Homo sapiens: one gene and its partner. Each later gene encodes a partner of the first gene's protein in a complex. Each region holds a gene or a part of one and is shown on either strand. Other genes may lie near its edges.

What was found.
Region 2: BICDL1 (region 1) and BICD2 share a complex: the UniProt entries of both Homo sapiens proteins name them as parts of the tripartite complex.

Annotation. Positions count from the first base shown.
Region 1 is NC_000012.12:119,983,754-119,994,505, forward strand, and holds the start of BICDL1 (BICD family-like cargo adapter 1), read left to right. Parts: upstream 1-5,482; 5' UTR 5,483-6,115; coding exon 6,116-6,544; intron 6,545-10,752. UniProt on the Homo sapiens protein: Acts as an adapter protein linking the dynein motor complex to various cargos and converts dynein from a non-processive to a highly processive motor in the presence of dynactin.
Region 2 is NC_000009.12:92,759,634-92,770,987, forward strand, and holds the start of BICD2 (protein bicaudal D homolog 2), read right to left. Parts: upstream 5,201-11,354; 5' UTR 5,112-5,200; coding exon 4,872-5,111; coding exon of another isoform or gene 4,791-4,871; intron 1-4,790. UniProt on the Homo sapiens protein: Acts as an adapter protein linking the dynein motor complex to various cargos and converts dynein from a non-processive to a highly processive motor in the presence of dynactin.

The DNA of each region.
Region 1 (10,752 bases):
CAAGTTTACCAGACTATCCAGGTACTAAAACTAACACTAATGCAAATATATTTTAAAGGAATACATAAGTGATAAAAAGTGAAGTGCAGTAGAGTAACTAAGAACAAGTCCATTAGAGACAGACAGTTCTAAAACACTAGCATCATAGTATCATGTACTAGTATATATTGGTGTAACACACTACCATTATAGGGTTATTGTGAGGATTAAATGAGAGAGTGTTACATAAAGGATTTAAGGAGCACAGTGCTAAATGTATTTTAGCTGTTATTGTTCTAGCATGAAGAAGAATAAATTTAATAAGCTTCTTAGAAGTCTGATGGTTTTCATAACTTGGCTTTAATGAGTTTTAAATCCTGGCACTAATTTCCATATAGGCAGGTATATATTCATTCTGTTACCTCAAGGCTGACCTAATGGACTTGAATCAGCAGTTCCCAGAGTGTGGTGCACCGGCTCCTAAAGGTCCTAGAGTCTTTCAGAGGGCTACCAAGAAAAGAACTATTTTCATAATAAGTGTAAGGATTATCATTCTAATGTTATTAACAATAGCAAACTAATTTCATAATAATGCTAATCATCTAATACTATTTTTGTTTGTAATTATGTTGACATTTGCACTGATGGTGCAAAAGCAATGGTAGGTAACACCACTGATACCTTAGCATGAGTCAAGGCAGTGTTACCCAGCTGTGCTGGTACACATGGTAGTCTTCACTTTCATGTGCTCATAGAAAAAACAGAAGCTAGTTTTATTAACCAATGTCCCTGACGAAGCAGTACTTCTATTAAGTCCAGACCCTTGAGTGCACATCTTTTTAATATTTCATGTGATGAAATGGGAAGTACCCACAAAGCACTTCTGCTGTGTACTGAAGTATGATGGTTATCTTGAGGTGAAGCACTTGTACCTCCGTTTGAGTTGGGAACTAACTAGCCACATTTTTCACGGAACACTGTTTTTACCTGAATGAATGACACAAACTGTGGTATTCAGATTCGGGTATTTGGCAGATATTTTCTCAAGAATTAATGAAGTAAGTCTGTTACTTCAAGGAAAACAACTCAAAATATTTGTTACTAATGATAAAACTCAAGCTTAGTAACTTCTCAATACTTAAAGACTTTTATGATGAGATCAGTGGTGGTGATATTAATGAATGTGATTAGGCTGATATTGTGTAATGACATGTGACAATATTTGTAAGATCTGCATAACTCAGACATTTTCCAAATGAAAATACATGCTGTTATACAATCAATCATACATATGTAAAAAATCCATTCAAAGTGAAAAATAGATCAATGGGATTTCCTTGACATGGTTTTAGATTTCACATTGCAACTAACCTTTAAGAAACTACAACTTGTCATCTGGGCGCAGTGGCTCACGCCTGTAATCCCAGCACTTTGGGAGGCTGAGGTGGGTGGATCACCTGAGGTCAGGAGTTCAAGACCAGCCTGGCCAACATAGTGAAACCCCGTCTCTACTAAAAATACCAAAATTAGCCAAGTGTGGGGGCACATGCCTGTAGTCCCAGCTACTTGGGAGGCTGAGGCAGGAGAATCACTTGACCTGGGAGGTGGAGGATGCAGCGAGCCAAGATTGCGCCACTGCACTCACTCCAGCCTGGGCAACAGAGTGAGACTCCATCTCAAGAAAGAAAGAAAGAGAGAGAGAGAGAGAAAGAAAGAAACTATAACTTGTCAAGTTTGGGTGTAATATCAAAGAAAAATATCCAAAATGAAAAGGCTACTAAAATATTCCTCCTTTTCCCAACCACATATCTTTGTGAGTCCAAATTTTCTTCATATATTTCAAAATATCATACATTATAGATATATCCAAATACAAGAATTCACTTTTCTACTGTTAAGCCATACATTACAGAGGTTTACAAAAATGAAGAATAACGCCATTCTTCTCACTAGTTTTTTTTACATTTAGGACCATATAGTTATTGTTCATAAAAATTCATTATAGTTACATATAATAGGTTTATCATAAATATTTAAAATGAATTAATTATTTAAAAACTTTTTTTTTGGAGATGGAGTCTCACTCTGTCACCCAGGCTGGAGTGCAGTGGCGTGACCTTGGCTCACTGCAACGTCCGCCTCCCAGGTTCAAACGATCCTCCCGCCTCAGCCTCCTGAGTAGCTGGGACTACAGGCACATGCCACCATGCACAGCTAATTTTTGTATTTTTAGTAGAGACAGGGTTTTGCCATGCTGGCCAGGCTGGTCTTGAACTCATTACCCCAAGTGATCTGCCTGCCTCGGCCTCCCAAAGTGCTAGGATTACAAGCATGAGCCACCGTACCCGGCCCAAGAGTGTAATGAGATTCTGAGACCAAAATGTTTAAGAACCACTATTTTGAATAGTTCTGCAAAGTTGGGCTGGTTCTCCCAGAAAGACAGTGCTTAGAGCCAAACCTACTGTAAGAAGTGAACATTTCCTAGTAAGGTTCAGCAGTGGAACATTGTTAGGAAGGAAATTCAGAAGCTGGAGTTAGAATTGTAACAGTTCATTTTCACAGTAACAGATAAGTGGAACAGATTAGGACCATTGGGCTCAAGGCAGGCAAACAAAGTCATTTTTTGAAAGATAGGCTGCATGTCTGCATTAAGGAAAAAGAGCTGAAACTCTTTTTTTTTTTTTTTTTTTTGACAAGTTCTTGCTCTGTCACCCAGACTGGAGTGCAATAGTATGATCAGGGCTCACTGCAGCCTTGATCTTCCAGGCTCAACTCACCCTCCCATCTCAGCCTCCTGAGTAGCTGGGGCTATAGGCACACACCACCATGCCTGGCTAATTTTTTTGTATTTTTTGTAGAGACGGGGTTTTGGCCATGTTGTCCAGGCTAGTCTCAAACTCCTGGGCTTATAAGACCCTCCCACTTTGGCCTCCCAAAATGCTGGGGTCATAGGCATGAGCCACCCAACTGGTGGAGAGACAGGATCTTGCCATGTTGCCTGTTATAAGTAAAATGTTTATTTAGAAACAGAATGCTTGTTCCTCGGTACCACGAGGAAAAATCAGCATTTAGAGAGAAAGTTTTCTCAGCAATGCAATTTTAGTTTCTGCAGAAAGGGTGCTCCTTGCAGCTGGAACAATGGCAAGAGCACACCTGAATAAAGGAAAGAAGCAATTTTTATCCCTTACGCAGTTTGTCCCTGCTACTGTGCCTTGTCTCCATTGGCTGGAGCCAGACCTTACAATTTAAACTGAACCTGATAGGCTAACAACTTAAAACTTTTCTAAATAGGTAAAAGCAATGGAGAACAAAGGAAAAGAGGAAGTTATTTATGAAAAGACTTAGAAAAGTAGTAACATTCCCAAATAGGGAAGGGGCATAGGCTGCAAGCTGGGACATGCCAGTGAGCATGTCCAGCACAGGTATCTTGGTTAAAGTACATGGACATAGAATGTACTCATTCCCTTAGATCTAACAGCTACATAGGAAAGGGCTTAACAGAGAGTTATTAGCATAAAATAAGGTGGCTTGAAGGAAGTTAGTCTTTAAAAGAAACCATTATTTCTAACACTTATTATTCATTCTTTAACAAGAAGGGAAGCTTTGAAGAGGAAACTTTACTTTCTACATTGTCCAAGCTGGTCTTGAACTCCTGGGCTCAAGCAATCCTCCTGCCTCAGCCTCCCGAAGTGCTGAGATTATAGGCAGGAGCCACAGAGCCTGGCCCTGTTTGTTCTTGATGTGTCTCCAGACATATTAGGGAGAAATTTGTCCTTCTGTGATTCAAATAAGACAAAAGGAAGTGGCAATTGGATCTCACCTCTGGCCCACAATTCCAGCTCAAGGTGGGAGGTCATAATAAAAAGTGTTAGAACATTTCCTTGCTGGAATGGTAACATGGTCAACTGCAGAAATTTAGCTCTAAGATTGATGTGGGAATCCCTCAACTGTCTGTCTCCTTTCCAGTCAACAAGTGAACAATGCCAGCCCTGAGGCCCAGGAGCTTTTCAGATTCTGGCCTTCAGTCTAAGGGTAACGATGTTAAAACTTGAATATTGTTTAGGCTCTGAATTTAATAAGCGATAAAAACCATGAGAAACTATTTGACCCATTTCAGCCTCTTGATGTTCTGAAATTTCCATCTCACTGGGATGAAAAGAAGAAAGGCATGATCCAAGTAAAAAATGGGTTGTCTGTCCAAGAGGAAAAGGAAGCATAGGGACGAATTCTAGCTTTAGATGGGATTGTTTCTGGAAATAGGAGACACGTAGCACCACCAACGAGGTCAACACCAAGGAATGACTGCAAGTCACCCAGTAGGCTCTCCAAACCTTCCTTTAATCATTGAGGAAATGTTCCTTCCATATCCACCCAATCCATCTTGGTCACAAAGGACCATTTATCTTCCTCAAGACTGCTTCTATGTGAAGAAAATAAAGAATAATGATTCACGTGATCCCTGGCGTCGGCCTGGCTAGATCTCAATCCTGACTCTACCAGTTGTAATGACCTGGGCAGACGATGCCATCTCTCAGGCTTTAATTTCCTTCTCTGTTAAAATGACAAGCGGCAGTACTGATTTTATAAAGTTCTTGTGAGGATTATCTAAAATAATGACTATCAAGCACTTAATACAGGACATGGCACACACTGAGTGCCGAATAAACGGTAGTTATTATTAGGGAGGTTCTTTGCTTCGTATTCCCATCTGTGAGCAGTTTTTTCCGTTATTTCTCCGCAGAAACCCTTTCTCTCCGGGCTGCTGATCTGCGAAGCATCTGGTCCTTCATATCCCTGAGTCATCAGCATGAAGATGCCTGGTTTCCGAAGTCCTCCCTCCTCCTACTGCTCTCTAGGGCTCCCTCTCCTGACTGCTTAGTTCTCCTGGGGGCCCAGACCTAAATTTCGTGAGGGTATGTCTTTCTCGGGGCCGGGTCACCAGTCTTGGAGGAATGTCCTCAGTCCCCTTTGCCCCAGACACCACCAGAGATGCGGCAACAGAACTCTGAGGCGCGCCCCGGCTTCCAAGTAGCTGGGGGCGGGGCCGCGCCTGGAGGTGAGCAGCAGGCGGTGGGCGGGGCCGCGCTCCGTCCGAGGTGAGAGCGAGGCCGGGTGCGAGGCCACACCCCGAGGTACGAGAGCTGAGGGCGTGGCCACACCCCAGCTCTGAGCGAGGCTGAGGGCGGAACCGCACCCCGAAGTGGGTGCAAGGCTGGGGGCGTGGCCGCGCGGTGAGGCAGCCAGGACCGTGAGGGATGCGCCAGCCGCCTCCGCAGGCGGCGCGCGCAGCCGCCCGCAGGGCGTGAGGCAGAGCAGGGGTTAAGGCCGCCGGCGCCACCTGGGCGTCGCTGAGGAGACCCGCGAGCCGGCGAATCCCGCGCGGGCGGGGCGAACAGGTGCCCGCGCGCGTCAGGCGCCGGCAAGGGGCGGGGCGAGGGGACGCGGCCGGAAGCCCGGGGCGGGGCGCTGCCGGCCCGGTGAGCCGGGAGGAGCCGGGGAAGGCAGGAAGGAGCTCGCCGGGTTGCGCGGCGCGCGATGTGGAGCCGCCGCCTCGGCCCCTGCAGCAGCAGCAGCCGCCGTCGCCGCCGCTGCTGCTGGGGCTGCCGCGGAGCCGGGGGTCATGGAGTGCGGCTGCAGAGAGCGGCCGCCGGCAACAGCAGCAGCAGCAGGAAGCGTCGCGGCGACAGCGGAGCGCAGCCCGCCCCGTGAGGCGCTGCCCGGCCGGCGGCGGCAGCAGCAGCAGCAGCGGCAGCGGCAACAGGGCGGCTGAGAACCCGGCGGCGGCGTTCCTCCTCGCTTCCTCCCCTCCCGCTTCGCCGACCCTCAGTCTCTGTTCCTGAGTCCTCCCTTCCCCAGCCTTCCCGTTCCCACCACCTACTCCGCCACTACCCCCACCCCCTCCTCCCGCGCGCGCCTGAGCAGCTGAGCCCGGGGGCGGGGGAGGGGGCGCGTGCCGCCGGCGCGGGGGAGGGGCGGGCCGGCGCGCGCCGCGCCCAGGGCTCGCGGGGACCCGGGGGCGCGTGCCGCGGCGCGAGGCGAGGCGCGGGACGCGGGGCGGCGCGGCAGGGCCCCTCCCCCCTGCAGCCTGGCGCGCGCGGGCCGGGCCGCACCGCTGCGGGCTCCGCGCGCGCGGGCCATGTCCGCTTTCTGCCTGGGCTTGGTCGGCCGCGCTTCAGCACCCGCCGAGCCGGACAGCGCCTGCTGCATGGAGCTGCCCGCCGCGGCCGGGGACGCAGTCCGGAGTCCCGCCGCCGCCGCCGCCCTCATCTTCCCCGGGGGCTCCGGGGAGCTAGAACTGGCGTTAGAGGAGGAGCTGGCGCTGCTGGCGGCCGGGGAGCGGCCGTCCGACCCCGGGGAACACCCTCAGGCCGAGCCTGGGTCTCTGGCCGAGGGGGCCGGACCGCAGCCGCCGCCCTCCCAGGACCCCGAGCTGCTGTCGGTGATCCGACAGAAGGAGAAGGATCTGGTGTTGGCGGCCCGGCTGGGTAAGGCGCTGCTCGAGAGGAACCAGGACATGAGCCGGCAGTACGAGCAGATGCATAAGGAGCTGACAGACAAGCTCGAGGTGAGGACCTCCCTCCAGGGATGGGTGGGGAGCAGGGGCCGCCCAGGCACGCGCCCGGCCCTGGGCAGTTAGGGAACCACTCACCCCCACTTCGTTGCTCACCCTACCTCGCAGAAAATCTGGAATGAATGGGGGAGGGAGGATGGAGGATTATCAGATTTCGTTGAACCCACTTGACTTCCCCACCCCGCTCACAGCAAATGGGTCCATGCGTGGCTCCAGCCGCTGTGGGCCGTTCTATATACGTACTGTACCCAGCATCTAAAATAGAGCTTACAGTATGACTATATAGCACTGAGGTGATGTCTGCATACAGAGAAATGAGGAAGTCGGGAAGCATTTAAAATATGTTGCAGGTTTTCAGAGCAGTTAATCTCTAATCAGGGTGTTAGCCTAAAGCCTTCCAGTTTGGGCGTTAAGGCCTTTAGATGCCCTTGTCTTAACTTCCTGGCAGCTCAGAGTTGTGGGAAACAAGTGCCCCTAAAGGAGCTTTATATAGCCTTCAAATGCTCAGGGATTAGGAAATGTGGTTCCATTGCAGAAATCAGGCGAGCCAGGGCTCAACATGTGACCGCTGGTAGTGGATTTAATTTGGGCCTCAGTATTTATGTGTATTTAAACAGTACTTTTCTGTGTTCTGGGTCTCAGGCTTGCAATTGAATGACCAAATGCAACCTATGAGAACCATATTACTTTAACTTCTGTTATAAAATACCTGTTAAGGTATCCGTAATATTTCTGCCAGTTCTCTAGGCAGTCTTTCAGAGTTGTTTGTTTTCTTGCCCTTAACTAGAAAAGGGCCTTGAATGCAGTACAGAATGCCAGCATTTCTAAAAATTAGATTGCAAAAAAAAGGGGCAGGGGGATGGGGAGAGGGAGTCACCTGTGACTTACCTTTCCTGCCTGTGCGTTTACTATTATTGTTACCTAGTTTGGTTGCAGCCAGCTCTTTTCATTCTTAGTTACAGCAAGACAATAGTACAGACCTGAATGAGGTTTGAAATTGACCCTAGTCAGGTTCCGTATCTCTGCTACTGGTTGAACAGTCAGAATGGAAATTCAGAAATATTCTGTAATAAGATTTAAGTATGCCTATAGTCCAGCGACGTAAAAGTAAATCCGGGAGAAAAAAAGGAAACCTGTGAGTGCCCTGTAGTTCGGTTGTCCTGCTAACTAGGTCTGCCAGTCGATGAACTCCTGAGATACCTCTCTGAAAAGTCGTTTGTGAAACCTATAGGTAGACTGCCAAAAAGCAGCCTAATGAATTGAATTGTTTAATTTTCACTTGAAGTAGAGGTCTAGAAATAAAAAGCCTTCCTTTTTTTTTTATAAAGAGATTCAGTTGTACGACTTTGTAAAGAAGTACAACTACAGAGATTTATACTTGTGATTTGAAATTTCTTCAGTGAAGGACTTGATTGAAGAGACAGCTGACTTGAAAGGAGCACCGTATCAGTTTGATTAGTGCCAGATTTCATAGTAATCCTGAGTGTGCAATTACATACATTCTGGGTTCCATGTGGAGCCTTTATACATTTCTTCAACATAGGGCAAAGATTTCAGAATGGTAACAAAAAAAGGTTGTATTGTAAAAGAATAAATTATCTTTGACATTTTGTTATTTACTTAATGGACAACAATAGTTTAAAACTCTTTAAACTATTTTTTAAAACCTTCATTCCTCTGCAGGTCAGCATATGAACTCTAGTTTTAAAAGTTCAATTTTAAGTTCTGGAGATAGTCGCACAACAATGTGAATATAACTAACATATACTTAACATATACTTACAGGCCAAATATTGATCATTGTTGAAACTCAGTGATGAGGGGAGTCAGTTATATTATTTCTTATAGGTAGGTTTGAAAATTATAAAAAATTTTAAAGTTTTAAAAATGTTCATTAAAGATACTAAGAGAGTACCATTAGTTGCTTGTTAATCTTTCTAGTGTTAATGTGAGAGTGACAAACCTGGTTTACAGAGTACTGTTTTATTTGACACCTCCGGTTTAGTTTTCCCCACAGTACATTGTTTGAACAATGTAGGTTTTAGAATGTCTGTTTAGACAATACTTTCTAACGTTCAGTACAAACTGCTGTACTTTGTACTTTTTTCTTTTTTAGACAAGATCTCACTCTATCCCCCAGGCTGCAGTGGAGTGGCTGATCATGGCTTACTGCACCCTCAAGTGACCCTCCCACTCAGCCTCCTGAGTAGCTGGGACTACAGGCGCCTACTACACACCTGGCTAATTTTGTAAAAATGTTTCGTAGAGATGGGGTCTCACTATGTTGCCAAGGCTGGTCTCAAACTACGGGGCTCAAGCAGTCCTCCTGCCCTGGCCTTCCAAAGTGGTGGGATTACAGGAGTGAACCATTGAGCCTGGCCTGTATTTTCAATTAAATCAAACACTTGGGAGTATAAAACCAGTACTTTAAGACGCATTTATTCATGAGAGAACTTGACCAGAAAAAAAAAATTTATAATCTTCCACAAACTGTCGGACATTTGGAGTCAAACACATTTTCTTACAGGGTGGTTTGAAAGAGAAACATGTGAGTGGACTGAGGGAATGCCACTTTCACTATTGAATAATGAGACTGGTTTTATTTTAATCCCATCTTCTCTACTACTTCAAAATTGGCACCTTTCTTCCACCCCCCCACCCTGCCCCCCAGATGGAGTCTCGCTCTGTCGCCCAGTCTGGAGTGCAGTGGCGCAATCTCAGCTCACTGCAAGCTCCACCTCCCAGGTTCATGACATTCTCCTGCCTCAGCCTCCTGAGCAGCTGGGACTACAGGCGCCCGCCACCACGCCTGGCTAATTTTTTTTTTTTTTTTGTATTTTTAGTAGAGACGGGGTTTCACCATGTTAGCCAAGATGTTCTCGAGCTCCTGACCTCGTGATCCGCCTGCCTCGGCCTCCCAAAGTGCTGGGATTACAGGCATGAGCCACTGCGCCGGGCCGGCACCTTTCTAATGTCGGGACAAACAAGGCATTTTCAAGATCTTTTCTACCTATTCATTAGTTAATACTAAATACCTCTCTGGTTCTGTGTGCCAAGCCCAAGATTTTGTTGTTTTCATTTCAAACATTAAAGTACTTGATGCTACACTATTGTGTCATTAAAGGCATACTATTAATATTTAAAGTCTTCAGTGGTTTAAAGGTTAACAGAAGTTTTTTAGTTATATGTCTCTTGGGGTTAAAATGAAAATTCAGGTTAATTGGAAAAACTGTAAGGTTTGGGCCATTTTTTCCGCTCTTGAATTGACTCTGTATTTTGTTACTCATTCACTGAATCAGATGCTTAAAGTTGTTTCTTTTTTTTTTTTTTTGAGACAGAGTCTTGCTCTGTTGCCCAGGCTGGAGTGCAGTGGCGTGATACCAGCTCACTGCAACCTCTCTGCCTCCTGGATTCAAGCGATTCTCCTGCCTCAGCCTTCCGAGTAGCTGGGATTACACAACCCACCATCATGCCTGGCTAATTTTTGTATTTTTTAGAGATGGGGTTTCACCATGGTGGCCAGGCTGGTCTTGAACTCCTGACCTCAGGTGATCCTCCCGCCTCAGCCTCCCAAAGTGCTGGGATTATAGGCGTGAGCCACTGCACCCAGCCCAGATGCTTAAAGTTCTGAAGGCATTTTTAAAAATTTCTTTTCATCTACAATTAGCCGTTTTGCTTTAAAACTTATATCCGGTCATGTCCTTAGCTTTTTCCCCAGAATATGAAGTAAGACAGTAACTTGTATTTATACACCTTTTTTCTTCAGGAATTAAATATTTGTTGTTAATGTACAGTATCTCCCTTTTTTCCATCATGGCTGAGTGGATTATCTCTTTACTGCAGAGATTGTTCTCTTCCCTCAGTTATATTTTCCTCCTTCCCCAGGCCAGGCCAATTCTCATTAGTCCAGTACTGTTTTTTTAAGAGGAAGAACAAAAGATGAAAATGAATACATAATGGGAGTCACTAGTGGATTTAGGGAAGAAAACCCAGGGGTTCTGATTTGCATTTAGTTCTTGGACCTTTTAAAGAACAGTACTTTTTCAGAACCATGTACTGGACTTCTGAGCATATTGTCAGTTTTTTGGTTCTTTTTTTTTTTTTGGCAGAAATCCATTTCTGTAAAGACCTGTTTTATGTAAACTAATGATCTTAATTTTGGGTGGTGGGGTTTTTTTAGTTTTAAATAGACTCTTTTTTTT
Region 2 (11,354 bases), on another chromosome or scaffold:
CTTCAGAGGCCACACTCTGAACACTGGACAACACAGGGTCTAAGGCCAATGCTTTACCTGTCAAAGCCTGCATAGTCCTGGCCAGCCCTGGCCACCAGCCACCACCACCTCAAACAGCTGGTGTACTGTCTGAGAAGAAACCAAATCTTTCTTACCCCCGATGTGTGTAACAGTTTCATCTGGTCCACCTATGTGGGGAAGCAGGTCTGACTGACTGGGGGATGCCCAAAACTGACAAAGAAGAAACTGATCTCCTCCCTCAAAGGAAGGGACTGTGGTCCCTAAGTGACAGGGGAGACCTAGCAGGAATCCTATATGGACCTGGGCCGGATGCTCAGACACAAGGGCACAGGGACACCACTCCCTGACCTTGGGGGCTCACAGAGCACTGGGCCAAGGTAACAGGCATCATCATTAACCTATCACGGCCCAGACAGGCAGCGGCTCATCCAGGGCCGCAAGCTCCTGGGAGACCAGGCAGGGCCCAGACTCCCCCTGTGGAGTCAGTATGGAGTTCACAGGGACAGACATCATATACAGTCGGTCCTGCTCAGGTGGTGCCAGGCACCCCCAGGGGCCCAGGGGCTCCCAGCACTGGGCCTGGCCTTCCTCTGGATCCACCTGCTAAGCCACAAAGCATGCTCGCTTGGCATCCCCAAAGACGAGCTGCTCCATCACAGCTGTGCCTGCCTTGAATCCCATGGAGGGTGGCCAGGTCCACGCCTCCACATGCTGGCAGGGCTGGCCTGGAGCACACCATCCGCATGCCTAGGGCTGGGCAGATTCCCTGGCCAGGTCCCAGGATGATTGAGATACACAAGTGCCCAGTCGCCAGGCCCTACAGGAAGAAACAGCACCAGGGCTCGATGTGGGAGTTTCAGACATTTTTAAAAGTGTAAGGGTCCCTAAAGATTCCTTCATGACCCCCTGCCCCATATTCTAAAAGTGGGGAAAGAGAGGCCCAGCGGGGAGAGAATTGCCCAACAATTAGTGACAACAGTGTAGCCACATGGTCATCATCTTTGGATGCCTATAGCTGCCTCTCCCCAACTGTCAGACCCATCTGTGCTTCAGGTATTCACAGGGCCCCAGCTCCCACCCAAGCCAGGCTTCCTCATACCAACAGCAGACCACTGCCACCACCCAGCCCCCTGAAAGGCCCTTGGGTCTCCCAGAGCCTCCTTGCTCCCAACAGCCTTCTGTTCAGAAATGGACACAACAATGTTCTCAGGGGTTATCAGACGAATGGGAGAATCCCACACTTGCTTTAACCAAGACCAGGACTTTTCCTGCTCTGGAAGCAAACAATCAAAGAGGCTGGGCCTCACCCCCAGTAACTCTGCAGAGGAACCTCCTGGAGGGTCCTCTGCCAATCACCCTATTGCCCCCACTTCCTGCAGCTGCCCAGGTGCTGGGAACAGGGCTCAGCAAGTCCAGAAGGCAGCAGGCAGGGGAATTTTAGAGACACCCAAGCTTGAAGGGCAGGTGGGACTTCTAAGACAAAGGGTGAATGTGGGCACAGGAGAGGTAGGGCAGTCCCAAGCCAGGCTGTAGGGGCCTGAGACAATGCTTAGGGCAGCCCTTGGGAGGTGGCAATGGAAGCCACTTGAGACTGAGCAGGGACAAGGATAAGAACGGGGAGAAGCTGCAGGTGCAGCAGCAAGGAGACAGAGACCTGAGTGAGGCATGAGATTCAGTCCGCAGAAGACCTACGAAGCACTTGCTGCGTGTTGGGTGCTGTGCCCAGTCCAACACCCAATTCCACCCACGTGCACCTCTCAGACAAGGACAATGGTGCTCCAGAGCTTGACACTATGACACCAAGGTGGCACACCAAGGCAGTGAGGGTGTCCAGACCTCCTCTCTGAGCCTGAGCTCAGGTGGAGTCAAGACTGTTCTCAGACCTCCCCCATTACCCTCCCCTGACCATGAGGACCACATGGGCACCTAGCCTTAGCCCACCTAGCTACAGTCCCTGCCTGTGCCCTGAAGGCAGGAGCTGCCACCTCAGCACACCTGTCCTCTTAAAGCTACAGCTAAGAACACAGAACAAAGTGTCTCACGGCCACGCAGGACCAGGAACACCAGGTTGCTGACCAAAGCCCATCTAATTCTCTTCCCCACCATTCCAGGGAGAGGAAGGGAAAGGGCACAGTGGGAACGGGGACAGATATGGTCTTAACTGAGTCAGGCTCAAGAAATCACTAGCAGAATGATTAGGCAAAATCAACCAGGGGGCACCCACCTCACTTGTGGTCTCAGCCAGCACCGTGCTATGTTGTCAGCAGGACACAGACACTTCCCCCATCCCATGAGAAAGGCAACAGGACTGGCACTGTCTCCCATTCATCACCACAAGACCCTCCTCAGCTCTGATCAGAAACCCACACACTGGGACCAGCAGGCCAGCGTCCTTCCCTCAACGATCCTATTATCTACAAATGCAGGGCAGAAGTACAAGCAACTCCATTTGGAGCACAATTTATTAGTAACTAAATGCACTTTAGTTCAAGAAATAAAGTTTTCTAAAGAATTAAGGCGGTACACCGCTCTACAGGAGAAAAAAAACCCCACAATTATTGACTCCTTAAATCTTGTGGTTTTTTTTAAATGAAGAGTTAATATTTTCAACTATAATACTGGCCATAATTAAATAGGTTAGCAAGAGCCTGTGTTGGCATGGGTGTGAGGAACACGCATGCTGTTGATGGGGGGTGAACTGGTACAAACTTTCTGGCAACATCTACTGAAACTGAAACGCTGATGCACATTCCTCTAGACTCTGCTAGAGACCGAGCAGAAACATTCTTATCCCACCTTACAAAGGAGAACTAGATTCAGAACAGAGCAGTAATTTGTCCAAGGCCATGTGGCCAGTACATGGAAGCCAGGTGGTGACAAAAAACAAGCAAGCAGACGCCTAAAGAGTACCCACAGAAACAGGTATACCCTCTTCCTGATTCTGCTAGGGACTCACCCTCCAGATACATGCCACGAAAATGCCAAGATTCTTCACTGTGCCAAAACGTTTGTGTCAGAATAGCAAAGACCTGACAAATGAAGGGCACCAAAGCGGGGACAAGTTAAGTCAGCGACAATTCCTTCTCACAGAGGACACTGCCAAACCCAAGCTGTGGACAGAGACAGGGACTGTAGAGGCTGCCCAGGAGCGGCTCACGATGCACTTGGTAGGAGGAAGAGGGCTGCTTCACTGTGTGCAGAGGGAAAAGCGCCCTAACAGATAGTGCTGCCTGCTGGAGAGGGTGAGCCCCGCTACAGGAGACCAGAAACTGGCCGAGTCCACTCCCACTCCATATTCTCAGAGCCCCCTGCCTCCCTATCACACGCCCCACCCTAAGATGGGGACTCTTGCAAGAGCAGCTGCATCTCACCCCTCTTGTAGCTCCAGCGCCACTGGAGCATGCATTGCAGAAGGTGCCAATACCTGCTGACAGACAACAGAATCGAGTCCTGAGGGCGATGGGGGAGGACCCAGCTCCTGCTGGCCCAGGGTCAGCCATTGACTGGTACTAACTGAGCACCTGCTCTGCCCAGACATCCAAGCATCTGCTTGGATTCATTCTCTGCTCTCCACAGACGGGTCTCCTCAGACACGGGGGAGGCAAGGAAGGCTGCAAATGATTTAGGCACCTGTCTGGGCTGACTGGGAGCAGAGGTGCCAGGTGATAAGCCTGGAAACCAAGAGCCAAGGGCTCACCAGGACACACTCAAGTGGGGGAAGGGAGCACACCACCAAGCTATACTCCTGACCGCACACCAGTCCTTTCCAAATACATGACCCTCACAACAATCCTTTCTGGGCACGCAGTACTGCACTCCCATTTTGCAGAGGGGGAAACTAAGACTCACGGAGGGCCTCTACCCAAAGCCACATCACTAGCAAGGGGCACAGCCTGGATCCAAACCCTGGTGTATCCTCCCAGAAAGCAATTCCTGCAAACAACGCTATGGAGTCAGGGAACGGGAGAAGAGAAGCTGGGGAAGGACTGTCCAAGACTCCCGCTGCCCTGCCGCCTGGAGACCCTCGACCAGCCTGGTGGTCTAACCTACTCTCCCCCCAGTGGGAATGACACAGACCACTGAGGTCTCCGTCCAAGAGGAACACAGCAAGCCACAGCGAGGGGAAGGGCCCGAGAAGCGGGGCTGGACAGGAAGTGGGCCAGGGAAGTCATGCTAGCTGGTGGGAGCGCAATCCCGGCCATGAGGACACAGCGCTGGGCCTGGGGCAAGGGTACTGGGGGACCCATGCCAGGGGCAACCTCCACGTGCAACCCCGAGCCCCTACTCACTTAGGCCGCTGTCCACGACCTTTCCCCACCTCGGAGGCACTCATGAAAGAAGCAGAAACGCTCCGAAAGTAGCTGCGCCCAGAGAGGGGAAGTGCTTTCTCTGAAGGTGACAGAGCCGCAGCCACCCAGACCCAGGCCCACCCTCGGCCTCTCCCAGCGGGTCACCAGCATCCGTGGCCTCAGCTCCCGGCTCAGCCACTGCCCTCCCAACCCCACCCCACACTCAGACACACCCGGAACAGCGACCACCGCAAAGCATCAGCCCTTACGAAGCCCCGCCCCGCCGGGGCCGCCCAGGTCCGCACAGAAGCAGGCGGGCAGCTGCAGGAGGCGACAAGGCGCCCGGACCCCTGCATTAGCGGCGTCTGCAACGGCCGCGGCACCGGCCTGCTAGCCAAGGCCGGGCCCACTCCCACATACTGCCCGTGCCCCCTCCGCCCCGGCGGCCCACCCCTGCCGGCCCCCGCTTGGCAAGCTGACCTTGGCCGCCCTGGTGCCAGGGACGACGCCCACAGGCCCCGGCGCCGGGCGGGGGTCGCAGGGCAGGGCGGCTCGGCTCACCTCCTTGAGCTGCTCCATCTCGCTGCGGATAGCCTCATAGTCCACCTCGAGCTCCTCGAACTGCAGCTTGAGCTGGTGCTTCTCCTCGAGCACCGCCAGCCCGTACTCGGCCGCCTGGATCTTCTCACGCGTGGTCTCGGCCAGCTCGTGGGACAGCCGCTTCACCTCGGCGCGCAGCCACTCCGGCTGCGCCTCCATCACCAGCCGCGCGTACTCCTCCTCCTCCGACGGCGCCGACATGGTGGCCGAGGGCTGAGCCGGCTCCCACTGAGGCTCTCGCAGGCCGGGCCCTCCTCAGCCGCCGCCGCTGCCGCCGCCGCCGCCGCCCTGCCCCGACGGCCGCCCGCCCGCCCGCGCCGCCGCACGGCTCCTCCCCTCCGGCGCGCGGGGCCCGCTGGGGGCTGGAGTCCTGCCTGCGCTCCGACCACAAGGTCCATCATGCCCGGCGCCCGCCCGGCCCCCGGCTATGATTGGCCCATGCTCTGTGAGGGGCGGGCCCTCGGGCGCAGCCACTGACGCCAATGTGGCCCAGGGGGCTGTGGGGACAGTAGTCCCGCTAGCGCACCGACTACAAAACCCGTCCAGCCCCGCGCCCACCCGTCCCCGTCCGTGATTGGCCTGCGCCGCCAGCGTCGAGCCGGATGTACCGGCGCCTTGCAGTCCCCTGGACGGCGGTCGAGTGGGCGCGGCCCCGCGGCCTTCCCCACACTCAGAGCCGGGGACACTGCTCGGTCGCCGGGCCTCGCGCTCCCCTGTGCCTCTGGCAGCCGGCGGCCACGCGGGGTGGCAAGACGGCTGCCGGGAGAACCCCCAGGGGGAGGCGGGTGCGGGGCGGCAGGACTGGGCTCCCGACCGTGGGACGAACAACGCGGACAGAGCCCGGGAGGCCACGAGCTAGAAGCGCATCCGAGAGCGCGGGTGAACGGCTGCTGCTGGAAACCCGTGGACGGTGTGACGCATGCTCTGTGCAGACGTCTGGGGGCGGGAGGAGGACGGGCCAGCAGGGGGCGCCCAGGGGCCAGCGGGAACCTCAGCACCGCCCCTCAGTCCTTCAAGGTCTATTTCTTGGGAATAAAGACATTTCCATTAATACAGGGTCATAAACGTGGTAAATATAATTGTTGTCTCCGCATCTATTTTTAGGCCTGACTTAAGTTGTTTGAAAGCCAGTCGTACCCTTCGCCTTGGCGTAGGTAACACTTCTCCGTATATGGTGGTGTGTGAGATAACTCGTTTATTCTTTATCTCATTGACCTAAAGCGCAACACACCCCACAGCCGCTGACCGCCATAGCACCTAATGGCCAGTATCAGTGCAGATGAGTTCACCCTTCCCTCGTATTTTCTTTAGCCAGTCCACAGGCCCCAAGGGAAATCCTAAAGGATGATTTCCATGGACCCTAGCACAGCCATAGTCCCTTCCTTCCCACCGTCTCTCACTGCCCCTCTCCATCTGCTTGTCCGCCTCTCTTAGGCATCCCTAACCTCTCCGGAACCTAAGAATAATAAATTCCTTCTGTTTTGTACCTTTTAATTTTACTTTCTCATTGTATCTCACCTGAACCCCACACCCATTCGGTTCTCCTAGAGAGTGGCTATCTTGGCTTATGGTCACTCTCCCTCAAGACCAAATTAGAAAGAAGCCATGACAGCAGAAATCACAGCACACAGGGTACTGACACTATCTAATGCACAGTCCACACTCTAATTGCACGAGGGCCCAACACCATACTGGAGAGTTTCAGTATTGTTTTTGTGGTCCAGGATCCAGTTGCATTCAGTCGTCAGGTTTCCTGAGTCTCCTTTGATTGACCTTTCTGAGGAGTGCAGTGCACACTGGTATATGCTCATGGGGTGATGAGGTGATGCGTTTCTGGCAGGACTGTCACTGAGGTGTTGCTGAGTTTTCAGAGCACCAGCCGGGAGGTATGTGATGTCGATTTGCATTTCTCTGATTGATGCTGGGTTTTTCTTTGGTAATTAGTGTCATGAGTGAAGACTTTGCAACCATAGATATAGCCTATGACTCCTCAAACCTTGACCCACTGGTTTTGGCATTCATGACTACTTCTTGCCTGAAATAATTATTACCATACTGTCTGCTTTTTTTTTTTTTTTTTTTTTTTTTTTTTTGAGACAGAGTCTCGCTCTGTCCCCAGGCTGGAGGGCAGAGATGCAATTTCGGCTCACTGCAACCTCTGCTTCCCGGGTTCAAGTGATTCTGCCTCAGCCTCCCGAGTAGCTGGGACTACAGGCGCATGCCACCATGCCCAGCTAATTTTTTTTTTTTTTTTTTTTTTTTTAGTAGAGAGTGGGTTTCACCATGTTGGCCAGGATGGTCTCGATCTCTTGACCTCGTGATCTGCCTGCCTCGGCCTCCCAAAGTGTTAAGATTACAGGCGTGAGCGACCGCGACCAGCCATACTGGCTGCTTTTCTATTTCCATTAGTCCTTCTCCATTTATGAGTTGCCTTTGTACTGTGAGGCACCTATACCTTCTCATCTATTCCCTTCTCTCTCATTCATTAGCAGTATGGATCCATGGATTCTTATTTTACTCCGTGGGTTACAATCCATTACTTTCCTTACTTGCTTTGATGCTCAAATGGTAGCAGATTTGGCCCGTGGGAGCTCCTCCAAGCTGGCTCCATGTCTTCAAAACATCGTAATTTGTTATTATTGTTATTACTTCCTTGATGTCTGATGCAAATTGTTCCAAGATCATCTTGTGCTCTCCATGTCCCAGACCTGAAATCAGTCATTTCCCCAAGGAGCCCTGATTCTTTTTAGTGTTTTGTTTGTCTGAGGAGAATGTGTCATAGATTGGCTTGTGAAATTAACTAATTTTAAGGAGTTCAGTTGTAGTAGGAATAGGAAGACCAACCTTCCTGGCTTACCTGGGACTGTCTTGGGCTGGGCAAATTGTTAACTGTAAGTGGGAGAGCTCCCAGTGTAAAGAAGGAACAAGACTTGTTTGAGTGTGTACTTAGCAAGGGAGGGACTGATGCCCCACAGTGACTTGCCCAAGGTCACACAGCCTCAGGGCAACACCTGCACCTGATCCAGGCTGATCTGACTCGAACCTCCCCACCCCCCGCCATACCTTGCTGTGGGGCAGGTCTGAGGAGGGAGGGAGAAAGACCATGGGAGTCCCACGCAGGGACTGACCATGGCGCTTTGAACTTGGAAACAGGTGGTGGTGGAAGGGAGGCCAGGGAAGGTTTCAGGAACATTCTGTTACAGGTAGGGACTCTCCTAGGTGCTGGGGGCAGAGGGTCTGTCACTACCCTTGTGGTCTTCCTTCTGGCAGGAGGGACAGCTCTGGGTGCGAGTGGCAATGTGTGATGGGGTGGGGTGGATCGGGAAAGGCTTCCCTGAGAAGACACCTGAGGGAGACCCAGAGGATGCACAGGAACTGGCCAGCCCAAGGCTGCAGGAATAGGGGGCTTGCAAAGATAAGAGAAGCAGGGTGATCCTGGCAGCAGATAATGAGCCACCTCTTACTGAGCTCTGCATGTGTTCCCAACATTGCCAGGTACGTGACATACATCTTCTCATTCAATCTTCACAATACCCTGAGGGGTAGAAATGATGCCACCTTCTTCTCCTCAAGTCTCTCTGTCTCTGGCCAGACTCTTCTCCAAAGTTACACCATCAAGCTGTCACTCTGAAGTCAAGCCGCTTCTCTCCAACATCCAGCCATAGTCCCCGACATCCAGCTGCTTCTCCTGTCTGCTGGCTGAGCCTGGGGTCCTTATAGGCAAAGGATGGGGCAGGGCGGGGCCATGGGTAGTTTAGGAAACAGCGACATTTGAGTGGGAAACAGGGATATAAGTTCTTATTTTGGGCTGCGGTTTCAGGCCTTTCAGCTTGACGGTGAGGCTTCACCAGGGACCCGCCCTTTTCTACCTGGAATTTCTCTGCCCCAGTCCCTATCACCTGGACCATTACCGTCACCCTCTCACTGCCTCCTTGCCTCCTCCTTCCCCTAGGCTTCTCTCACAGCAGGGCAGCCAAGAGTTTCCTTAGACCCAAGTCAGGTCCCATTCCCACTCTGCTCAAAACCCAACCAAAGTCAAAGCCCCATCATCACAGCTACCTCCAAGGCCCTGCACGCTCAAGTGTGGCCCTTCCTCAACCTCTTCCTTCCCCTCTCCTCTTGTGTAGCTCTTGTAAACCAAAAAGTATCTGAGACAAATCTTAATCAACTCAGAAAGTTTATTTTGCCAAGGTTAAGGATGCATCCATGACACAGCCTTAGGAGATCCTAATGACATGTGCCCAAGGTGGTCAAGGTACAGCTTGCTTTTATACATTTTTGGGAGACATAATGTCAGAGACATTTGAACCAGAGCAACTCCATCTCAAATAGGGGCTGAGTAAAATAAGGCTGAGACCTACTGGGCAGCATTCCCAGGAAGTTAGGCATTCTAACTCACAGGATGAGATAGGAGGTTGGCACAAGATAAAGGTCACAAAGACCGTGCTGATAAAACAGGTTGCAGTAAAGAAGCCAGACAAGGCTGGGCACGGTGGCTCACGCCTTTAATCCGAGCACTTTGGGAGGCTGAGGCGGGCAGATGACCTGAGGTCAGGAATGCGAGACCAACCTGGCCACCATGGTGAAACCCCGTCTCTACTAAAAAAATACAAAAATTAGCCGGGAGTGGTGGCGGGTGCCTGTAATCCCAGCTACTCGGGAGGCTGAGGCAGGAGAATTGCTTGAACCCGAGAGGCAGAGTTTGCAGTGAGCCAAGATCACGCCACCACACTCCAGCCTGGGTGACAGAACGAGACTCTGCCTCAAAAAAAAAAAAGAAGGCAGACAAAACCCACCAAAACCAAGATGGCAATAAAAGTGACCTCTAGTCATTCTCACTGCTCATAATGTGCTAGTTATAATGCATTAGCATGCTAAGACACTCACACCAGCGCCGTGACAGTTTACAAATGCCATGCCAATGTCAGGAAGTTACCCTATATGGTCTAACAAGGGGATGAACCCTCAGTTCTGCAAAGTGCCTACCACTTCCCCAGAAAACTCATGAATAATCCACCCTTCTTTAGCATATCATCAAGAAATGACTATAAGTATCCTTAGTCAAGCAGCCCATGATGCTGCTCTGCCTATGGAGTAGCCACTCTTTATTCCTTTACTTTCCTAATAAACTTGCTTTCACTTTACTCTATGGAGTCACCCAGAATTCTTTTTTGCACGAAGTCCAGGAACCCTCTTTTGGGGTCTGGATCAGAACCCCTTTCCAGTAACAGTGATACATCAATCAATACATGTAAGATTTACATTGGTTCCATCTAGAAGGGCGGGACAACTTGAAGTGTACAAGGGGTGGGGGGTCTTCCAGGTCTTAGGTAGATTTAAACATATTCTGACTGCAATTGGTTGAAAAAGTTATTTATTATCAGTAGAAAGGAATGTCTGGTTTATCATCAGGGGTTGTAAAGGCTGAGGTTTTATCATGCATATGAAACCTTTAAATAGCAGGCTTTAGATATACTAGACTGTAAATGTTTCTTATCAGACTTAAAGTTTGTGTTGATGTAAAATAAACCCTGGGCATGTCCAACCCCCACTTCATGTCATGGCCTGAACAGGTTAGTCTTTCAAGTTAAATTTTAGAATGCCCTGGCTGAGGAGGAGGTTCATTCAGATGGTTGGGCGTGCCTTCAAATTTTATTTTTGGTTACACCCTCACGGCTGTAGGCTGCAGACTCCCTTCCCTGGTTCTATTTCCCTCCCTCTGTTGCATACTGTATGTTGTGCATATTCACCTTTGTGCACTTATGTCCCCCTAGAATGTTAGCTCTAGGAGGGCAGGAGCTTTGATGAGGCCTAGTGAGTCTTGGGACCCATATCAGGGACACCAACCAAGGTCCCTTAGGGGTCAGGGCTCAGCGGATACAGACCAGGCTGGGCTCACCATGCACCACTTCCTGGACACAAGCGCCCTCCACCAGGAAGGCAGGATACATAAGATAAGGGAGGCGGCCTCAGCAGAGGTGGGAGGGAGAGGGGCTTGAGGGGTGTCAGGGAACAGCTGGGTGGCTCCCTCTAGGAGAACTGGACCGCTTAGCTGGGGCCTGGCAACAAAACAGGAAGTGATGTTCTCCCAACCAAGCTGCTCTGCCTTTGCACATAAACAAAGACTCCCCAGGGGCCCAGGCAAAGGCTGGCAGTGTCCTCACACACAGACATGCCCAGGCTCAAACCTAACCTGGTGTGTAGTCACTCTGGCAGCTCAGCCTCCCCTCCTTCCTCACTGTTCCCTGGAGAGCTCTGCCTACCCACGTAAGCACCTTCCCCTGTCTCCTCTCTGCCCCTCACTGGCTGAGGAGTAAAGCCATCTCCCCAACAGGTGATGGCCTGCCAGGTGTATGTGGCTTGGGCCACCCGCATGGTGAGTCACATGGCAGCCCCCACACTTTCATGCTGTATGACGTCAAAGGATCTTTGGCCCAGGTTGGG